Homo sapiens: one gene and its partners. The protein of the gene in region 1 interacts with the protein of each later gene in a biochemical or structural test. Each region holds a gene or a part of one and is shown in the gene's direction. Other genes may lie near its edges.

Evidence for each region. Proteins that work in one complex are often made in the same cells at the same time.
Region 2: the proteins of CUL5 (region 1) and DCUN1D5 form a complex in vitro, tested with the Homo sapiens proteins (one study listed by BioGRID).
Region 3: of the proteins of CUL5 (region 1) and UBA3, one has a biochemical effect on the other in vitro, tested with the Homo sapiens proteins (one study listed by BioGRID).
Region 4: of the proteins of CUL5 (region 1) and APOBEC3G, one has a biochemical effect on the other in vitro, tested with the Homo sapiens proteins (one study listed by BioGRID).

The regions. Positions count from the first base shown.
Region 1 is NC_000011.10:108,104,495-108,109,448, forward strand, and holds the end of CUL5 (cullin-5), read left to right. Parts: 3' UTR 1-1,712; coding exon of another isoform or gene 1,713-1,793; 3' UTR 1,794-3,267; downstream 3,268-4,954. UniProt on the Homo sapiens protein: Core component of multiple cullin-5-RING E3 ubiquitin-protein ligase complexes (ECS complexes, also named CRL5 complexes), which mediate the ubiquitination and subsequent proteasomal degradation of target proteins.
Region 2 is NC_000011.10:103,084,525-103,089,160, reverse strand, and holds part of DCUN1D5 (DCN1-like protein 5), read left to right. Parts: intron 1-4,636. UniProt on the Homo sapiens protein: Contributes to the neddylation of all cullins by transferring NEDD8 from N-terminally acetylated NEDD8-conjugating E2s enzyme to different cullin C-terminal domain-RBX complexes which is necessary for the activation of cullin-RING E3 ubiquitin ligases (CRLs).
Region 3 is NC_000003.12:69,065,730-69,070,365, reverse strand, and holds part of UBA3 (NEDD8-activating enzyme E1 catalytic subunit), read left to right. Parts: intron 1-2,357; coding exon 2,358-2,438; intron 2,439-4,636. UniProt on the Homo sapiens protein: Catalytic subunit of the dimeric UBA3-NAE1 E1 enzyme. E1 activates NEDD8 by first adenylating its C-terminal glycine residue with ATP, thereafter linking this residue to the side chain of the catalytic cysteine, yielding a NEDD8-UBA3 thioester and free AMP.
Region 4 is NC_000022.11:39,076,109-39,081,210, forward strand, and holds the start of APOBEC3G (DNA dC->dU-editing enzyme APOBEC-3G), read left to right. Parts: upstream 1-1,166; 5' UTR 1,167-1,253; coding exon 1,254-1,270; intron 1,271-2,823; coding exon 2,824-2,977; intron 2,978-4,824; coding exon 4,825-5,102.

The DNA.
Region 1 (4,954 bases):
TAAAATCTCTGCCTTACCTTACAAAAACAACTATATTTTGCCAATCACATTAGTTAGCATGATGGCATTCCCTTCATGTTGCACACTCTTTGACAGCATGCTGTTTTGTGGAGAAACTTGCATTCATGAAGAGCCCATTATCAACTTTTAAAAGTGAATTTGATTTGTACCCACCAGGAGAAATACAGTTGGGAAGGGTGAGGGTGGGGTTCTTGTTGCTTTTTTCTCTTTTTTCCTCTCTTAAAAAATGTACTTGCACAAGGAAGGATCTTCAGATATTCATGCACTGAAAAATGCTGTTATCTTTTGTTTTTAAAAAATGCAATTAAAACTAGAAATAGCACTCTTGGTTTCTTTTGATGAAAAGAGTGAGCTGGTCAATGCAACATTGGGAAACGGCAGATGTAGGTGAGAAGTTAAGTATTTAATAGTATCAAATTGTTCAAACATTGCTCAGTATAATAACTGGATTTTAATGGTGACCTAAAAATGGTATTAAATATTTTCAACTTTCAAATGTTGGTTTTCTTTAAGCAGGAGACTGCTATTTTAGTTGTTGTTAAATGATGAGGAGTTTTTTTTTTTTTAAATATGGCTGGAAAGCTTGTTTTGAAAAATGAAGCTTATATTAATTGTTGCTTCAATAGTTTAAAAAATTTATGGAGATAGGTAGGTCATTATGATTGCAGAGCCAAAATAGCAAAACAAACATATTAAGTGTGTTTACTAAACATATTGTGTGTTTACTAACACACTTAATGTTTATATACCTAATATTTATTATGCCATATCTGAATTTATTAAAAACAACACAGAAATCTCCTGCTCTGATATAGTTATGTAACTGATCTCTTAATCTGTAGCATAGAAGTATTTTGGTATTTTAAGGTCTCATGATTAGGGATTTGTAGCCTCAGGTTTGAATCAGTCACCTAGGGGTAAGAGAAAAACCACAACATAAGACCTGAAAAACAGAAGCAAAATTGTTGCACTCTTAATACGAGCAGTAAACTTGCCAAATATATGTACATATATATTTATATATTTTAAAAATAAACATTTTTTAAATCGTCAGAAGGCAACATTTACCATGTTCCTTTCAGTCTATCCAAAGTAGCAACTTAACTAGTTGCTGGCAACTGAATACCCAGAGTAGTGGAAATTTTAGGACTTGAGGACGTGAACAACTTGAAAGAGAAAATTGATTCCCCTTGAGGAAAGAATGGCTCAACGTGGATTTTTATTCATTGTGGTGCACGTTTCAAATTTTCTTGCAAATTATTTTATATCTTATTTGATGTTAAGTAATATTTTTAAAGTATGGTTTTTGAAGATAGTAGGAAATGGAGTACAGAAAGGCATACAGTATTATGTTACAGTGGAGTGCTTTCAAGAGCATTTCGTAGGATCTGTCCCCATCCGAAGAGGCTTTGTGAACTGCCTGCTGAATGGAAGGAAAGCAACTTTAAAACATTTAGAGTTTTGCTGAGTATAGCCAAATGCCTGTTCTGAAACTTATAGGAAATTGGAATTTTGTTTAAAATTTTACACTTTAAGGTAGCAAATGTCAATTATTAGACCGAGCATATTGTGAAGAATTAAACTAAAATTAATACGTACAGTTTTCTCTAATTAGGTGACTGTTCATAATGGGTATATTTGGAATTTAGAAGAAATAATTTTGTAGTAATTGTGGCCCTTATGTTTAACAGATAATTCAGCATTGGCGTATTTGCTTGTCCCAATACAAGAATGCCAAAGGAGGAAACAGGAAAAATTGCCGTCCATTTTAAAAATTTAGGTTTGTTGTTTTAAACCATAATTGTTCTCAGAACTTTTTTGGAACTTCTAATTTTGGGTCATTTAATTTAAGAATGAGAGTCATGATGTTTTGATTTATGAAGGTGAATTTAATGCAAAAGTGGGTAACACTACATTCATAGCAAAGTTTTTTATTAAATTTTATAAATTTTTAATAGCCAATTATGTCCTAATTGTATTTTGGGGAATGAACAGCAGCAAATACTGTAAATGTACAGTTTTCTTTTTTTTTTTTTTTTGGTTATGTATACAAAAGTTTTAACTACTTTTTGGTGTTTATGAAAATCATTTAGTTGACAAGGTGCCTATGCCATTGTTAAATTTTCTTTAAGTAATTTAACAACAGATTTGCTAATTTAAAAAAAAATGAAAAAAAAAATCTTACCAGCAGTTTGTAAAGGTCTGGAATCACAGTTGGCATCCTTTATTCAGGTCTCTTCTCTCCAGCGTACACTTAAAATTGGTGCCGAGCAGGGATATAACCTGCAGTTAAGTGAAAAGAAAATCCAGCCTCCCCCTCCAAAAAAAAAAAAAAAATTTAATTTTTAAAAATTAGTGGTATGGCAATAAGACACTTCAGAGGCTATCTTAACCTCTGAATACCCATCTTCTAGTTTAAAGACAGAGACATCCCATCTGGAAAATGTTAACTTGTGTTGCCATCTCGTTGCCGGAGTAAGTAGACATAAGACAGAGTTTAAGAAGTAAAAATATAGAAAAATTTTGATGGTCACAATGAGATAAATATTAGAATATTACTATTCCAATGATTAAATGAGGATCTTGAAATAAATTCTGAAGTCTTCCAATTTTTACATTTATTGGAGGGGTCCCTGAGTTCTGTCAACTTTTTTATTTAAGTCTCTTGCTCTTATTTTGTGCATAAATGTTAAACCTTCCAAAAATGAAATGTTAGCTTTCTTTCTTTTACTTTTTATTAAATTTAATAGAAAATATGACCTGAGTAGTTAAAAAGTATTTTGCATTATTTGCAGTAAGATGTCTCTAGCACTGCTCAAAGGGCAAATTTTAAAACTTCAGTCTGGGTGAAAGATTTGCTAGTTTTACAGAAAGATTTGCTATCTTAAACTCAAGCTGGTTTTTCTGTTCTCATGTAAGTGACTGGGATGCTGTCTTATGAATTCTTCCAAGGTCATGTTTGTGAAATAAACATTACATGAGAGCTTTCCTGTCATCTACACTATATGTTGTCTGGAGTGTTGAACAAATTTATTTTAGTTTCTAAGTTGTAATCTATCCTCATATGGTCTATACGATTTTGAATGTGTGCCACTACATACTGAGATGATAATGCTGTACAATTTTAAGTGGTAGCAGTTTCTGTATGCAGTAGGCTGAAATATTTTGATGAACTGCTTAATTTTTGGATTTTATTTTTTAAGTTGTATAATTTATTTTCTTGCAAAATAAAAATGTAATATAAAAGCTTTTACCTATCCAGAAAATGTTGATGTTCTACTATAAAATAGTTACAAAGAGTTTAATTAAAATTTTTATAGTAGGTATATTTTTAAATTTGAAGGTAAATTAATCTCAGCCAGCCTTAGGAATCAGAAATATGAAAAGTAACCCACTTATTTATATTAGACTTCAAATTCTAATTCAAAATGAGAGCAGTCAGGAATGTAGCTTTTCCACTGATGATAGCATGTGGCTATATGCCTGGAAGAGGTAATAAAAAAAAAAAAATTCCAACCTGAAAGTGGTTAATATATTCATCAACTAAGATAGGCTATGTCATAACAAAATTCAAATTTTATAGCAGATAAAAGTAAAAAATGGGCCGGGCTCAGTGGCTCACGCCTGTAATCCCAGCACTTTGGGAGGCCAAGGTGGGTGGATCACCTGAGGACAGGAGTTCAAGACCAGCCTGGCAAACATGGTGAAACCCTGTCTCTACTAAAAATATAAAAATTAGCCGGGTGTAGTAGCGCGCGCCTGTAGTCCCAGCTACTCGGAAGGCTAAGGCAGGAGAATCGCTTGAACCCGGGAGGCGGAGGTTGCAGTGAACCAAGATTGTGCCACTGCACTCCAGCCTGGGCGACAGAATGAGACTGTCTCAAAAAAAAAAAAAAAAAAAAAAAAAAAGTAAAAAATGTAAAACATAATCATTTCACATTTTGGATATATTTGAAAATTTGTGAAATACTTATTTTTGTTTTTATTTTTATTTTTTGAGACAGAGTCTCACTTTGTCACCCAGGCTGGAGTGCAGTGGCGCGATCTCGGCTCGCTGTAAGCTCCATCTCCTGGGTTCATGCCATTCTCCTGCGTCAGCCTCCCGAGTAGCTGGGACTACAGGCGCCTGCCACCACACCTGGCTAATTTTTTGCAGTTTTAGTGGAGACAGGGTTTCACCATGTTAGCCAGGATGGTCTCAATCTCCTGACCTCGTGATCTAGCTGCCTCGGCCTCCCAAAGTGCTGGGATTACAGGTGTGAGCCATCGCGTCTGGCCTGAAATACTTATTTTTAAGCTAGAAATAGTTTGGCAATAAGGTTGTGAAACTGGACAGATAATAGCAATTAGTTACTGATCAAGTGAACAATTTAATAATCGAAAAAACTCTTGACTATAAGAAACTTGAATTGCATACAGGGACTTAATTACCCAGAGGAACTAAATTTAAAAGAAATTTCAGGCTGGGCGCAGTGGCTCACACCTGTAATCCCAGCACTTTGAGAAGGTGAGGTGGGCAGATCACTTGAGGTCAGGAGTTCAAGAACAGCCTGGCCAACATGGCAATACCCCATCTCTACTAAAAATACATACCTGTAATCCCAGCTACTCAGGAGGCTGAGGCATGAGAATCACTTGAGCCTGGGAGGTGGAGGTTGTAGCAAGCTGAGATCGCACCACTGCGCTCCAGCCTGGGCAACAGGGCCAGACTAATTCATTCATTGATTCATAAATAAATGTTATAGAGCTCCTTTACATTGAGGGATCATTTCTTGTTCCTACTGTAGTAGTCAATAAATGTTTTGGACAACTGGATGGAGGAACACATTTGACTTCATAACGACTCTAAACTCAACCTTGGACTTAAACTGGCATTTGGGAGTTTGGGGTTGGGGGAGGAGTTGACTTGGAAATGAAGCTAGAGAAGGTATTT
Region 2 (4,636 bases), 5.0 Mb from region 1:
AACAAATTATCTGTTACAGGCCTGCTATGTGTTAGTGCTGTGTACTGGGATGAGGGTCAGGACTGAAGATTGTGGGTAGACTAAAAATTTGTTGCCAATTTAGGCTGATATTTCTTTAAATATATATTCGGTATATATTTACTGGGAGGGAAGAACTCATTTACTATTAATAAAACGTGTAAACAAAGATTCATTTATTTACATCTATTGGCTAAAGTAGTATTCTGGAAAATAAAAGGTACACAATAAAACATTTTTGTATTTGATATTGTGGAAAACACAAAGTACATAATAAAACATTTCTATTCAATATTCTCTTTTTGAAATTTTTCTGAACTAACATTTTCTGAAACTTTTGGGGAGACATAGTAAAAGATTTAAACCCCTCAGTTATAATTGTACAACACATTTACTTTTTAACAATTATCATTTAGCCATCCACTTCTACTAGAGATGCAATAGTAAGAAAATAAATAGACTGATATTAATACAGTGTGATAAATACTATATTCAGAAGATACACTGTGAGAGTTCATAGGAGGGATATATAACCCAGCTTTTAAAGTGTCATGGGAGTTTTCTAGAGGAGCTAACTTAACCTCAGCTAAATCTTGTAACTGGTGGATGAAGAGCCCTAGGCCCAGGATGGGGTTGTGTTTTAGAGGCGAAAGTCAAAGCCAGCCAGAGATGGGGCTGAAGAGTTAAGCAAATATATGCAAAAGAACACTTATACTATCTCATAAATATATATGGAATTTTTTTCCCCTTAGAATAGTTTTGTTTTTTTGGAGTTATTGATTTTAAAGCTTTTTTCTTTTCCTTTTCCTTTTTTTTAACCTGCTTCACTTTTTTTTCTCCTTCTTTTAATCACTATCATTCTCAAAATGTTTGTTTAAAATGGAAGTGTATATGTAGCTATTGCCTTATATTTAGTGCTCATCCACATTAAGGTCTAAAGTAGTATACTTTGAACTTGAGGTATAAGTTTAGGCTAATTGTATGGAATGTGAGACTATTTTGAAAGGGGGGCAGTAACTTTACTGTTGGAATCAGCTGAGTGATCCCAAAGTACAATTTTAAAATTGTTTAGTAACAGAACAGATTCTTTCTAGACCAGAAATAAATGCTATTACTGGCATCCCAAGACAACCACTAACCCAATTTAAATGAAGGGAATTCATTTCTTACTGACCTCCATTTAAAATGTTGACCCATTATCCCAAATGCCAGTTTTACTGGTATGAATGATATATAATCAAAAGGTCACCCATCTTATTTCACTTATAAAGGTTACTAGATACAATAGAAATAGAAAATATTTGCCTCAACTAGGAACTTTCCTAGGTAGTGTAAGATTCTAATTAAACATTTGTTTACTATATTAGCATTTTTAATAGCCAACATAATAATTGCATTATTCCAGGAATTGTCCCAGGTATATTATTTTTTCTTGTGACTGTTCTATTAAGTAGGTAGTATTATCACCACCTCCCACTACGACTTTATTTTTTGAGACAGGGTCTCACTGTGTCGCCCACGCTGGAGCGCAGTGCTGTGATCATGGCTCACTGCAGCCTTGAGCTCCTGGGCTCAGGCCATCCTCCCACCTCAGCCTTTCTAGTAGGTGGGAATATAGGCATGTGCCACCACGCCTGGCTAATTTTTTAAATTTTTTGTAGAAATGGGGTTTCAGCCGGGTGTGGTGGCTCACGTCTGTAATCTCAGCACTTTGGGAGGCCAAGGTAGGCAGATCACGAGGTCAGGAGATCGAGACCATCCTGGTTAACATGGTGAAACACTCTCTCTACCAAAAACACAAACAATTAGCCGGGCGTGGTGGTGTGCGCCTGTAGTCCCAGCTACTTGGGAGGCTGGGGCAGGAGAATGGCGTGAACCCAGGAGGCGGAGCTCACAGTGAGCCGAGATAACACCACTGCACTCCAGCCTGGGTGACAGAGTGAGACTCTGCCTCAAAAAAAAAAAAAAAGAAAAAGAAAAAAAGAAATGGGGTTTCACGATGTTGCCCAAACTGGTCTCCAACTCCTGGGCTCAAGTGATCTAATTGCCTCAGCTTCCCAGAGTGGTGGGATTACAGGCATGAGCTGCTGTGCTTGGCCATACCCTCATTTTATAGATGAGAAAACTGAGACTTAGATTAATTAATTTGCCCAAGATCATATAGTGACAAGAGCCAGGATTCAAACCCAGGTCCTTCTGATTCTAAAGTCCATGCTTTTAACTACTATGCTTTTATGTATTTTTTATTTAAATTTTATAATGTTTATATATAGTTATAAACATTTTATTATAATAGATATTATTTTATGTTTATTTTTTATTTAAGCTAATTTTCACTTTTGCAAAGAAAATATTGGTACTCTTGGTTAATTTCTGTCATCCATTCAATAAATATTGAGCACTTGTTTTGAGTCAGGCACTGTGCTGAGTGCTGGATATATAGTGCTGAGCAAGTCAGACAAGATCCCTGCCTTTGGGGGACTTGCCTTCTGGTGAGGAAGACAGTCAGTAAACAGGTATGTAGGCAAGATAAGTACAGATTGTGGGGAGTTATAAGGATAATAAATATGGTGAGGTTCAGGAATAGAGAAGAAAGAAGGGTTAGATGGACTTTCAGATAGAGTGATTAGGGAAGGCCTCTCTGTGGAGACCACTTTGTGCAGAGACCTGATTAGGGAGGAACCATTTGTTTGCCAAATAAACAGTAACTGTTCTGTCTTGAAATGGGTATGTCCGTATTAAAATGAAGCCAATAATTTTGCCTACTGAGAATAATACATGTAAAGCCCTTAGCACAATACCTGGTATATAGTCAGAACTCAAATGTTATTATTATTAAAACAGTAATAGCATTACAGCATCAGATTTACTGGTTGTGTGTTTTTTACAGTGTTCCAAAATTAATGACTCTTACGTAGCTCATGTTGAAGGTGCTGTGTCACTGAGAATTTTTTTTTTTTCCCCCTAAGCATCTGTTATGGCTGGCATGGTATTAGGCCTTGCAGATATAGCTAGGAACATTCCTTTATGGTTATAAAGAAATCAGGAAATTGATGGTGTTTTTCTTTTAGTTTTGAAAATATCACTAAACTTGTTACTATGGTATTATGTGTGATAAGGCTGTTGGTTTTGTTCTTTCACAAGACCTCATTCTTGAGTGATATTTAAATTAATGATTCAGTAATATACTGGCCTATGGTAATTGAAAACATGGAAAGTGAAAGGGCAGTTTTAAAGTCTCATAGAGTCAAAAAATAAGGTTGGAATTGCATAGTCCTAATATAGTACCTAGCTGGTGGAGTAGAGTGAACTCATAGTATGAACAAAATCATTTCTATAGCTTCTTCAATTGAGTGGAAACCTAGTTGTCCAAAAGAGTTAATTAAATTTAGCTCCAGAGGTTTTACCCAGAGAGTAGTTTTATTAGAAAGATTGGAAGCAATGGTATTGGAAGGATTAACATTTTGCAGTCCGGGGAAAGCACATTAGTTACAGACCTCGCTTTAGACTTAGATCTGTTACTATTTACATCACTTTGGCAAAGTCAGTTAACATTTACAGACCTTATCTAAGTTATAAGGTATTATATCTCTATGTAATCTCATTTGACTTGCTTCTAACCAAATTTTAATTAGTAATCACCAAGTAATCCTCCAGTTTCTAGGGGGGCTATACTGATATTTCTTTTTTATTTTTTATATTTTTTGAGACAGAGTCTCGCTCTGTCACCTACGCTGGAGTGCAGTGGCGCAATCTCGGCTCACTGCAACCTCTGCCACCTAGGTTAAGTGATTCTCCTGCCTCAGCCTCCTGCGTAGCTGGGATTACAGGCACCTGCCACCACGTCTGGCTAATTTTTGTAGTTTTAGTAGAGACAGGGTTTCACCATCTTGGCCAGGCTGGTCTTGAAATCCTGACCTCGTAATCCATCTGCCTCGGCCTCCCAAAGTGCTGAGATTACAGGCGTGAGCCACTGCTCCTAGCTTATGCTGATGTTTCTAGACATCCTCTAAAGCTTTCTCTTTGAATCACTAATGGCAACTTTGAGAGCAAGTATGTTTTCTTGATGCTTTAGAAAAATTTACAATATATTTACATCGTGGCTTTTAAAAAAACCGTTTGTCTTTTCCCTTAATTTTTTATTTTTTATTTTTTTTTGAGACAGGGCCTTGCTCTCTCCCAGGCTGGAGTACAATGGCGTGATCATGGCTCATTGCAGCCTCAAACTCCTGGGCTCAAGCAATGCTCCCACCTCAGTCTCCTGAGTAGCTGGGACCACAGACTGGCACCACCACACAAGGCTATTTTTTTTTTCCCTAGAGATGGGGTCTCCCTGTGTTGTGCAGGTTTGTCTGGAACTCTTGGGCTCAAGTGATAATCCCACCTCGGCCTCCCAAAGTGCCAAGATTACAGGCATGAGCCACCGCGCCTGGGCCTCTTAAATTTTCAAATCTGATTTTTGTTTTCTTTCAATCATATATAAGAATACATACTCATTTATGCATTTTAACACCTTTATTGTATATGTATGCCTTTTAAGTTATAAAATTAACACATTCTCATTTAAACAATTCTCCAAATATGTAAAGGAAGAGAAAGTGCCCTATAATTAATCACC
Region 3 (4,636 bases), on another chromosome or scaffold:
TGGAAGATCTTAATGGGACTGAAGTATGGATTAAAATAAGTTAATGAAGTGTTGTAATTGCAGTGTGACCCTTAATGTTTAACTTTTAAGCTTTATTTTTTGTTTATTTTTTAACCTTTGAAATTTCCCTTCTCTATAGCAAAGTTTGTGGGCTCTGTCCAGCTTGTCAAATTTTGAGTTGTGAATTCTCTGAAAAAGATACCACTGAATTGATTTGTTATTGATACAGGCCATACCCTTTAATTTGTGGCTAAAATGGTTGAAGATGGTAATAACGATATGTAGCAAGTACTTCTAAACTATCCATATTATTCCATTTAATCTCAGCAACCTCAGGGTAGGTTCTTGTGTTCAAGGTTAAATAATTTGGGCAGAGTGTCCTGCAAGGATGATGTGTGTGAAAGGCCATTTTATTGAGGTGGAGCAATCTGATTGTTTCATCCTGGAATGGTAAATTAACAAACAGTTCCCAGAAACCATCTAGGAGTTCTTTTGTTTGGGCCGTGCCATAAAAGCACATAGAATATATTACTTAAAATAATCTTAGAAGTCTACTTTATCCCTTTTACAAACCAAAAGAGCTTTCTGTGTGTGGAGCCATTGAATGCAATACTGAAATTAAGTTCTTTGATTTATAACAGGGCCTTTTTTATGTAAGTTAGTACAAAGTGAAGATAAAACATTTACCAAAAGTTTTGAATCAAAAAAGAACAGTGCTTTATTGGAGAGAAAAAAAATTGGCCTGGCATGGTGGCTCATGCCTGTAATCACAGCACATTGGGAGGCTAAGGTGGGCGGATCACTTGAGGTCAGAAGTTCGAGACCAGCCCGGCCAACACGGTGAAACCCTGTGTCTACTAAAAATACAAAAATTAGCCAGGCGTAGTGACTCATGCCCGTAGTCCCAGCACTCTGGAGGCTGAGACAGGAGAATTGTTTGAATCTGGGAGGCAGAGGTTATAGTGAGCCGAGATTGTGCCACTGCACTCCAGCGTGGGTGACAGAGCGAGACTCTGTCTCAAACAAACAAAAAAAAAGAAAAGAAAAATTGACATGCTAAAGTGTTTTTCTTTGAAATTTCAGATTTTTTTCTAATAAGCACACGATTTATTATTTTCATTTATTTTAAAAGTATTTACTGTGTGCTAGGTAGGAAGGAATATGAAGAGAGTAAGAACATGGTCACTTTCATCCAAATAATAGTCTAGTGGGTATGATAGACGTGTATGTAGCAAATATGTTACGAAAAAAGTAATAATGTTCTTATTATATACATGGAGTGATTTCTCTGAGGAGAATATGGAAATATTAGGAAAGAAAATACCATTTGTATAGAACTTAGAGGAGGAAATTCATATCCTTTCCTATCTATATGTGTGGTTATTGTTTTAAGAGTGACCTTTTGAGGCCTTATATATTCAGCTTCTGTGATGTAATAGTAACATTTGCAATTTTAGCTGACACTTTTGGTATTATTCTTTCTTTAAAAACTTGGTGCCGGGCATGGTGGCTCATGCCTGTAATCCCAGCATTTTGGGAGGCTGAGGCGGGCAGATCACCTGAGGTCAGGAGTTCGAGACCAGCCTGACCAACATGGCAAAACTAAAAATACAAAAACTAGCTGGTTGTGGTGGCAGGCACCTGTAATCTCACCTCCCTAGAGACTGAGGCATGAGAATTGCTTGAACCTGGGAGGCGGAGGTTGCAGTGAGCCGAGATCGCACCACTGCACTCCAGCCTGGGTGACAGAGTGAGTGAGACTCCGTCTCAAAAAGAAAAAAGAAAAAAACGTGGTTACAGCCTCTTTTTTTTTTTTTTTTCCATTTTATATACGGTCCAGTGAAATTTTTTTTTTCTTTTTTTTTCTTTTTCATGCAGCTTCTTAGGGGACACAAAATTTGCTGCTTAATCAGCACACACAGGAAGAAGGGGTTAAATGAAGGTTCTTGCATCCCAAGGATGAATCTTATTGTGTATATTTCAGCCAAGACCTGTGGAGTAACACCATAAGGTTCTGAGCTCTAAGAGTGGGATAATTTTTTACAGTGGAAAGTGGCCAGGAATCATAGCATTATTATGCTTTATCTGGGAGGAAGAACACTGTTCAGATTTTCTCTTAATTAAAGCAATACTTAATTAGACTTATGTTAATTTGGACCATTAGCAAGGGTTGACATTTAAGGTTAAATGACCGTTTACCAAAAGTTATTACTGAAATCAAAATACTTAGGCAAAAATATTCCTTCTAAATTTCCTATAAGTAAACTTACTGTGAATTTACTTTTATGTTTGAAAATAAGTTATGTAGATCATATAGATTTATAATATGAATTATAATTTAAATATTTTTCCTGTAGGCCTAAAGATATTGGAAGACCTAAGGCTGAAGTTGCTGCAGAATTTCTAAATGACAGAGTTCCTAATTGCAATGTAGTTCCGTATCCTTTTGACAAAAAGAAAATTACTTAATTTTTAAAAGCTTTTTTCCTTTATTATAAGAGATATTTAACAGAGAATACAGATAAGCAAGAGGGAAAAAAAGTCAGCAGTAGTAACTTTATTACTGAGATAACTGCTGGTAACATTTTGCTATCTATTCTTCCAGTCTTTTCTGTATGGTTATATAAATATTTTTTGGGCCCTGATTTTTAACTTAAGTTTATAAAGCCTGTTTCATCATCTACTTTATTTTGCATTATTGCCCTTAATTTCAGTATCAATTACATATCTCCTTTACTAGAGTGTAAATTCCTAGGCTGGATCCAATTAATCTTTGTTTCTTTATAGTAGCAGACAGAGTAGACAGTCAATATAGTATTAGCCAAATGGAAGGTACATCACAGTAAATTTATTTTTACAAGAAATATGTTTTTAAAAAGGAGTATTTACACTGTAGTTTGAATTTAGATCTGGAGAACTTTTGGCATTTTATAGAAAGTCAGAAGATGTGATTTCTATGTAGAAAGTCCCACAGAATACAAAATCAACATACCGGTGAACTTGTGAAAGTTAATGTAAAATACAATGCCATTTACAACTGCTTAGAAAGAAAAATAAATACTTAGATGTAAACTACAAGATAAGTAAGAGATTTATATAGTGAAAAACTACAAAATGCTGATGAAAGAAACCAAAGAAAATCTAAATAAATGGAGAGATAGTCCATCTTCAAAGATTGGAAGATTAAATATAGTAAAGATGTCATTTCTCCCTAAATTTGTATACATATATACCATAGTTTCTATTAAAATCCCAGCAAAATTGTCGATATAGACGATCTTCTAAAATTTTATATAGAAAAGCAAAGGAATACCTACTACAAATCTGAAAAAGAAAGTGGGAGGAATCACTATCCAAATTCTAGACTTATATAGCTATAGTAATCCAGACTCAGTGGCGTTACCAGAGGGATATATAGATGACTAGAACAGAATAGGGAAGCCAGAAATAGCCCCATATAAGTATGGCCAATTTGTTTTTGATAAAGGTGCAAAACAGTTCCAATGGAAGAAGCATAGTCTTCAACAAATCGTACTGGAGCAATTTCATATCCATAGTTAAAAGATGAATTTTGACCTAAACATACAAAATTAACTCAAAATGGATTATAGGTGTAAATATAAAATATAAAATGAGCCAGGCGTGGTGGCTCATGCCTGTAATCCCAGCACTTTGGGAGGCCGAGGTGGGTGGATCACTTGAGGTCAGGAGTTCGAGACCAGCCTGGCCAACATGGTGAAACCCCGTCTCTACTAAGAATACAAAAATTAGCCGGGCACAGTGGCTCCCAGCTACTCAGGAGGCTGAGGTGGGAGAATCGCTTGACCCTAGGAGGCTGAGGTTGCAGTGAGCTGAAATTGCGCTACTGCACCCCAGCCTGGGCGACAGAGCAAGGCTCCATCTCAAAAAAACAAAAAAAAACACAAAAAACCATAAAACGATAGAACTTTAGGGTTTGGTGGAGAGTGCTTAGGCCACGTCAAAAGCAAGACCTGTAAAAGGTGGGGTATGGTGGTGCAGATCACTGAGGAAGCAGTGAGCTTTTATCATACCACTACAGAGTCCTGGCTGCTTGGGAGGCTAAGGTGGGAGGATTGCTTGAGACTAGGAGTTTGAAGCTATAGTAGGCTGTGGTCATACTGTGAATAGCCACTGCATTCCAGCCTGGGCAATGTAGTGAGACATCATCTCTAAAAAATTAAAATAATTTTTTGTAAAAGCATGAGCCATAAAAGGAAAAAATTGATACACTGAACTTCATCAAAATTAAAAACTTGCTGTGTGAAAGACCCTCTTAAACGGATGAAGAAAAGCCACAGACTGGAGAAAATACTTGTAAAGCATCTGATGGAGGACTCATATCTAGAGTATATAATGAACTCTAAAAACTCAACAGTAAAACAAAAAAAAATTCAATTAGAAAATAGACAAAAGATAGGAAGAGATATTTTACTAAAAAGGATGACGAAAAGCACATGAAAAGATGTTTCACATCAAACTAAGACCACCATGAGCGATACTGTTACACAACTATTAGACTAAAAAAAAAAAGCCAGTCTCAAAAGGTCATATACTGCATGATTCTGTTTATATAATACTCTTGAAATTACAGAATTATAGAGATGGCTGGGTGTGG
Region 4 (5,102 bases), on another chromosome or scaffold:
TGCAGGCCATCTGGATGTATATGTGCAGTTCACAGGGGTCACAATGGCTTAGCTCTGGCTCAGCGGCCTGACACTGACCTCAGATGATCCACCTGCCTCGGCCTCCCAAAATGCTGGGATTACAGGTGTGAGCCACTGTGCCCGCCTGGGATCATATGTTACACGCATGTTTGTTCAATAAGCATGGAGTGCAGCCACCCACATGAATATTCATAGCTCCTCCTGTAGCCTGTTCAATATGTATGTTTAGCTAACCCCTTCAGCATAAAGCTCCTGCCCCAACCCCTCCTGCTTCTAAATGTCTGTCTCTGGTGTTAACCAGAGGCTGCTCTTCCCAGGCTGCTGGATGGCTACCTTGCAGGCTGTCACCCTTAACAAGAAATAAAGTGTCATTTGCAAATGCATCCCTTGTGTAATTTGTAGGTCACCACGCCATGGGAACACGCTACCAGGGGAAGGGAGCTGTGAGACGCGCAGGGAGGCTCCAGACAGGCTGGCCTGGGACACCAGCCGCTGCCCTTCCATAACATGGGGACAAGAGAGGGCAAAAGTTCAGCCCACCACGGAGGATCTCCGGGCAGGAGATGGGGAAGAAGGAGAAGCAGGAAGGAAAGAGCTCAGTGTGGGGGCGCGCATGGCATCCCGGTGGGACATCTGAGGCCCACACCCACCTGCTGTCCCTCCCTCCCACGGTGGCCTCCGAGGGTGACGGCCTGGGGGGAGGCAGACGCCTGGCCATTTACTCTCCCTCCCTGTCCCCATGGCCGCTGGGTGGGGGCCGTCTCTGGGATGATCCCCGAGGGCAGGATCCGGGAGTCCCTGCGGAGGCATCAGCCTGTCTGTCTTGATGGTGGAGAGGAGGCTCCAGCTGGGCGGGACCACCAGGGGAGGGGCTTGTGCTCTGCTGGCTCAGCCTGGTGTGGACCCACCTCCCGGGCGCTGGCTGCAATGACTTTCTCTTTCCCTTTGCAATTGCCTTGGGTCCTGCCGCACAGAGCGGCCTGTCTTTATCAGAGGTCCCTCTGCCAGGGGGAGGGCCCCAGAGAAAACCAGAAAGAGGGTGAGAGACTGAGGAAGATAAAGCGTCCCAGGGCCTCCTACACCAGCGCCTGAGCAGGAAGCGGGAGGGGCCATGACTACGAGGCCCTGGGAGGTCACTTTAGGGAGGGCTGTCCTAAAACCAGAAGCTTGGAGCAGAAAGTGAAACCCTGGTGCTCCAGACAAAGATCTTAGTCGGGACTAGCCGGCCAAGGATGAAGCCTCACTTCAGGTACCGCTGCCCGCTCTACCCACTGGGCCCCTCTGCTGCCCCTTCTTGCCTGGTGGCTCTGCTGGGCGTCAGCCCTGGCCTTCCCCTGCCCCAGCCCCAGCCCTGGGCTCCCTCCCCTCTGACTCCCCTGCACCCCCTACTCCCAGCCAGGCTCCTTGCCCTGCTGTGTTGTCGCCCCACTGCTGCTTCTGAATGGGCCGCCTCCCCCATCTGTCCCAGCCCAGGTCCCCTGCTGAGACTCTCCCCTGAAAGTCATGGCTGGGGTGGTGCTCCCGGCCCTGGGAGGGTGCTCCCTCTGTGTGCTTCCCGCCATTCCTGAACTCTGGAACTGGGAGAATTGAACCAAAGGATGAGTAGAGCAAGGTGGAATTTTGTTCACAGGGCTTTGATGGATTTTCTGTAAGATTTACTTTGCTTAAATACCAAGTCTTAGGAGAGGGTGTGGGGAGGGAATGGTCTCTGAAGCACAGGATAAATCATGTCTTCCAAGGATGTCTCCACTGTGGGCAGAGGAGGATGCAGATGACCCCAAACACACGCTCCTCCTCCACTATCAGCATTCACTGTTTATAAATGACACCAGTAACATGGAATATAGTGGCCGGGTGCGGTGGCTCACACCTGTCATCCCAGCACTTTGGGAGGCTGAGGTGGGCGGATCGCCTGCGGTCAGGAGTTCAAGACCAGCCTGACCAGCATGGATAAACCCTGTCTCTACTAAAAATGCAAAATTAGCTGGGTGTGGTGGCGGGCGCCTGTAATCGCAGCTACTTGGGAGTCTGAGACAGGAGAATCCATTGAACCCAGGAGGCGGAGTTTGCAGTGAGCTGAGGTCGCCCCATTGCACTCCAGCCTGGGCAACAAGAGCAAAACTTCGTCTTGAAAGAAAAAAAAACAAAAACAAAAGAAAAAACATGGAATATATGGGAAAAAAACTCAATGATCAGGAGGAATGTTGTTATTTTAAAATTTAGTAAGAAGAGAGCCCGGTCCCCAATGGCTGCCTCCTGCAGGGCCAGTGATACAGAGACTGGACAGGGCTGGCCTGGAAAGGGGCCCCCACTCCATTTGTCCCCAGCTCTGTGGCCTGGGCAGGTTACCCCGCCTCTCTGCGCGTCTGGCCCCTCCTCTGTAAGACGGGAATGGCCCCTGCCAGCCTAGGGCAGCCTCACATGAGCTCACCCCCGCGCAGCACTTAGAAGACTGGCCTGGGCCTCAGAATTCGGTTCTACCATGATTTAACAATAATAATATACAGAGGTGAAATGTCAGGAAGGAACTGAGCTGAAAGGTTAAAAGCTGTTATTTTGGGGTGAAGAGTTTTATTCTGTCTCTCTCTCTCTTTTTTTTTGAGACGGAATTTCGCTCTTGTCGCCCAGGCTGGAGTGTAGTGGCGCGATCTTGGCTCACTACAGTCTCCGCCGAAATTCTCAGGGGAGGGGAGGGATGGGGGAGGCCTAGAGCCGTCCAGGGGGCTGTGTTTAGTGGACATCAGCCCGGAGGGCCCCCAGGAGTGCTCTCTACATTGGCTGGTTTCTCTCTTGTGTCTTCAGAAACACAGTGGAGCGAATGTATCGAGACACATTCTCCTACAACTTTTATAATAGACCCATCCTTTCTCGTCGGAATACCGTCTGGCTGTGCTACGAAGTGAAAACAAAGGGTCCCTCAAGGCCCCCTTTGGACGCAAAGATCTTTCGAGGCCAGGTACCACCCGGACTCCAATCACTTTGCAGGCAGGAGCTAAGCCAGCTGGGAAAGCAAACCACGCACTGATAAGTGAAGTGCCCGGCGGCGGGCTATCCAGTGTGTCCTTCTCTCCCACACTTTCCAAGTCCGTGGCCCTGACCTTCCTGCTGGACCGTCCTGGGATCGGATCGTGGAGGGGGTTTGCCTCTGCACAAAAGGCCTTGTGTTTCCGTTTTTCTTTTCTTTTCTTTTTTCTTTTTTTTTTTTGAGACAGAGTTTCACTCTTGTTGCTCAGGCTGGAGTGCAATGACGCGATCTCGGCTCACAGCAACCTCTGCCTCCTGGGTTCAAGCGATGCTGTCGCCTCAGACTCGCAAGTAGCTGCGATTACAGGTGCCCACCACCACGCCCAGCTGATTTTTTTTTTGTATTTTTAGTACAGATGGGGTTTCACCATATTCACCAGGCTGGTCTCGAACTTCTGACCTCAGGTGATCCACCTGCCTCGGCCTCCCAAAGTGTTGGGATTACAGGTGTGAGCCACAGCGCCGGCCTAATTTTAATATTTAATTAATCCAATGTGGCTAACATATTACTTCAACATTAATTAACATAAAATTCTTGACAAGATAATGAAGTTTCTTTTTCTTGTCACACCGAGTCTTTGAAATGAGCTGCGTGGGTCACGTACAGTGGGTGGCTCGCACCTCTAATCCCAGCACTTTGGGAGGCCAAGGCGGGCAGATCACCTGAAGTTAGATATTCAAAACCGGCCTGGGCAACATGGTGAAATCCCATCTCTACTAAAAATACAAAAAAAAAAAAAATTAGCCAGGCATGGTGGCAGTCACCTGTAATCCCAGCTACTCGGGAGGCTGAGGCAGGAGAACCGCTTGATCCCATGAGGCAGAGGTTGTAGTGAGCCAAGATTGCATCCTTGCATTCCAGCCTGGGCAACAAGAGCGAAACTCCATCTCAAAAAAAAAAAAAGAAATGAGTGGTGTATTTTTCAGGTGCCCAGGTCTCTAATCAGAGCCCCATTTCAAGTACTCAGTAGTCCCTTGGCCATGTCACCCCCCCCGACATGGACAGTGCAGGTCCAGTGGGCTCCCCACTGACTGCAGGCAGGGAACAAGGCAGACCCTAGAGGGCCAGGCCACAGTAGGGGCTGAGGATGTCTGGTGAATGGATGCCTGGGAGAATGGATGCTAGAATTCACACACGAGGCCATGAACAGGGCTGGGAAAACTTCCAAACTCAGGGAAGCACGTGTCTTGGTGCACCTTGTGATGCTTCAACAGCAGGACTGAGATGGGGACATTTACAATGAACAGAAATGTATGGGCTCGAGTTCTGGACTCTGGGAAGTCCCCTGTCAATGCACCAGCAACTTTCCAGGGCCTGCGAGCTGCACAGTCACGTGGGGGTGAAGGTTGTTGCCAGAAGCTCAGGGGATGCTCCAGACAGAGTGGCCTGGGATGTCGAGTCACTGCTGCTCCGTGACATGGGGGCAAGAGGAAGCAGTTTAGTCTGACATACTGCCCCCCCAGCTAGAGGGCAAGAGACAGAAAGAGGGGCTGAAGTCGCCCTTGAATAACCACAGCAGTGGCACCCACAAAGGTGCAGTTCCCACAGCCTCATAGCTGCTTGTAGGTGCCACCTCTTAAGGCCATTACCATAGCAATTAATACTGAACATGAGCTTTGGAGCAGACAAACACTCAAACCGAACAGGGGGATGGAGGAAAGGAGCTTCAATGGCAAGATCTCCTGGACTCCTGTCCTGGCCCCTCCTCCCCCTGCCCCACCCCTGCTCTCCTCCTGCTCCCCCTCTCAGAGCTTGCCCTGACCCTGCTCCTCTCCCAGGTGTATTCCGAACTTAAGTACCACCCAGAGATGAGATTCTTCCACTGGTTCAGCAAGTGGAGGAAGCTGCATCGTGACCAGGAGTATGAGGTCACCTGGTACATATCCTGGAGCCCCTGCACAAAGTGTACAAGGGATATGGCCACGTTCCTGGCCGAGGACCCGAAGGTTACCCTGACCATCTTTGTTGCCCGCCTCTACTACTTCTGGGACCCAGATTACCAGGAGGCGCTTCGCAGCCTGTGTCAGAAAAGAGACGGTCCGCGTGCCACCATGAA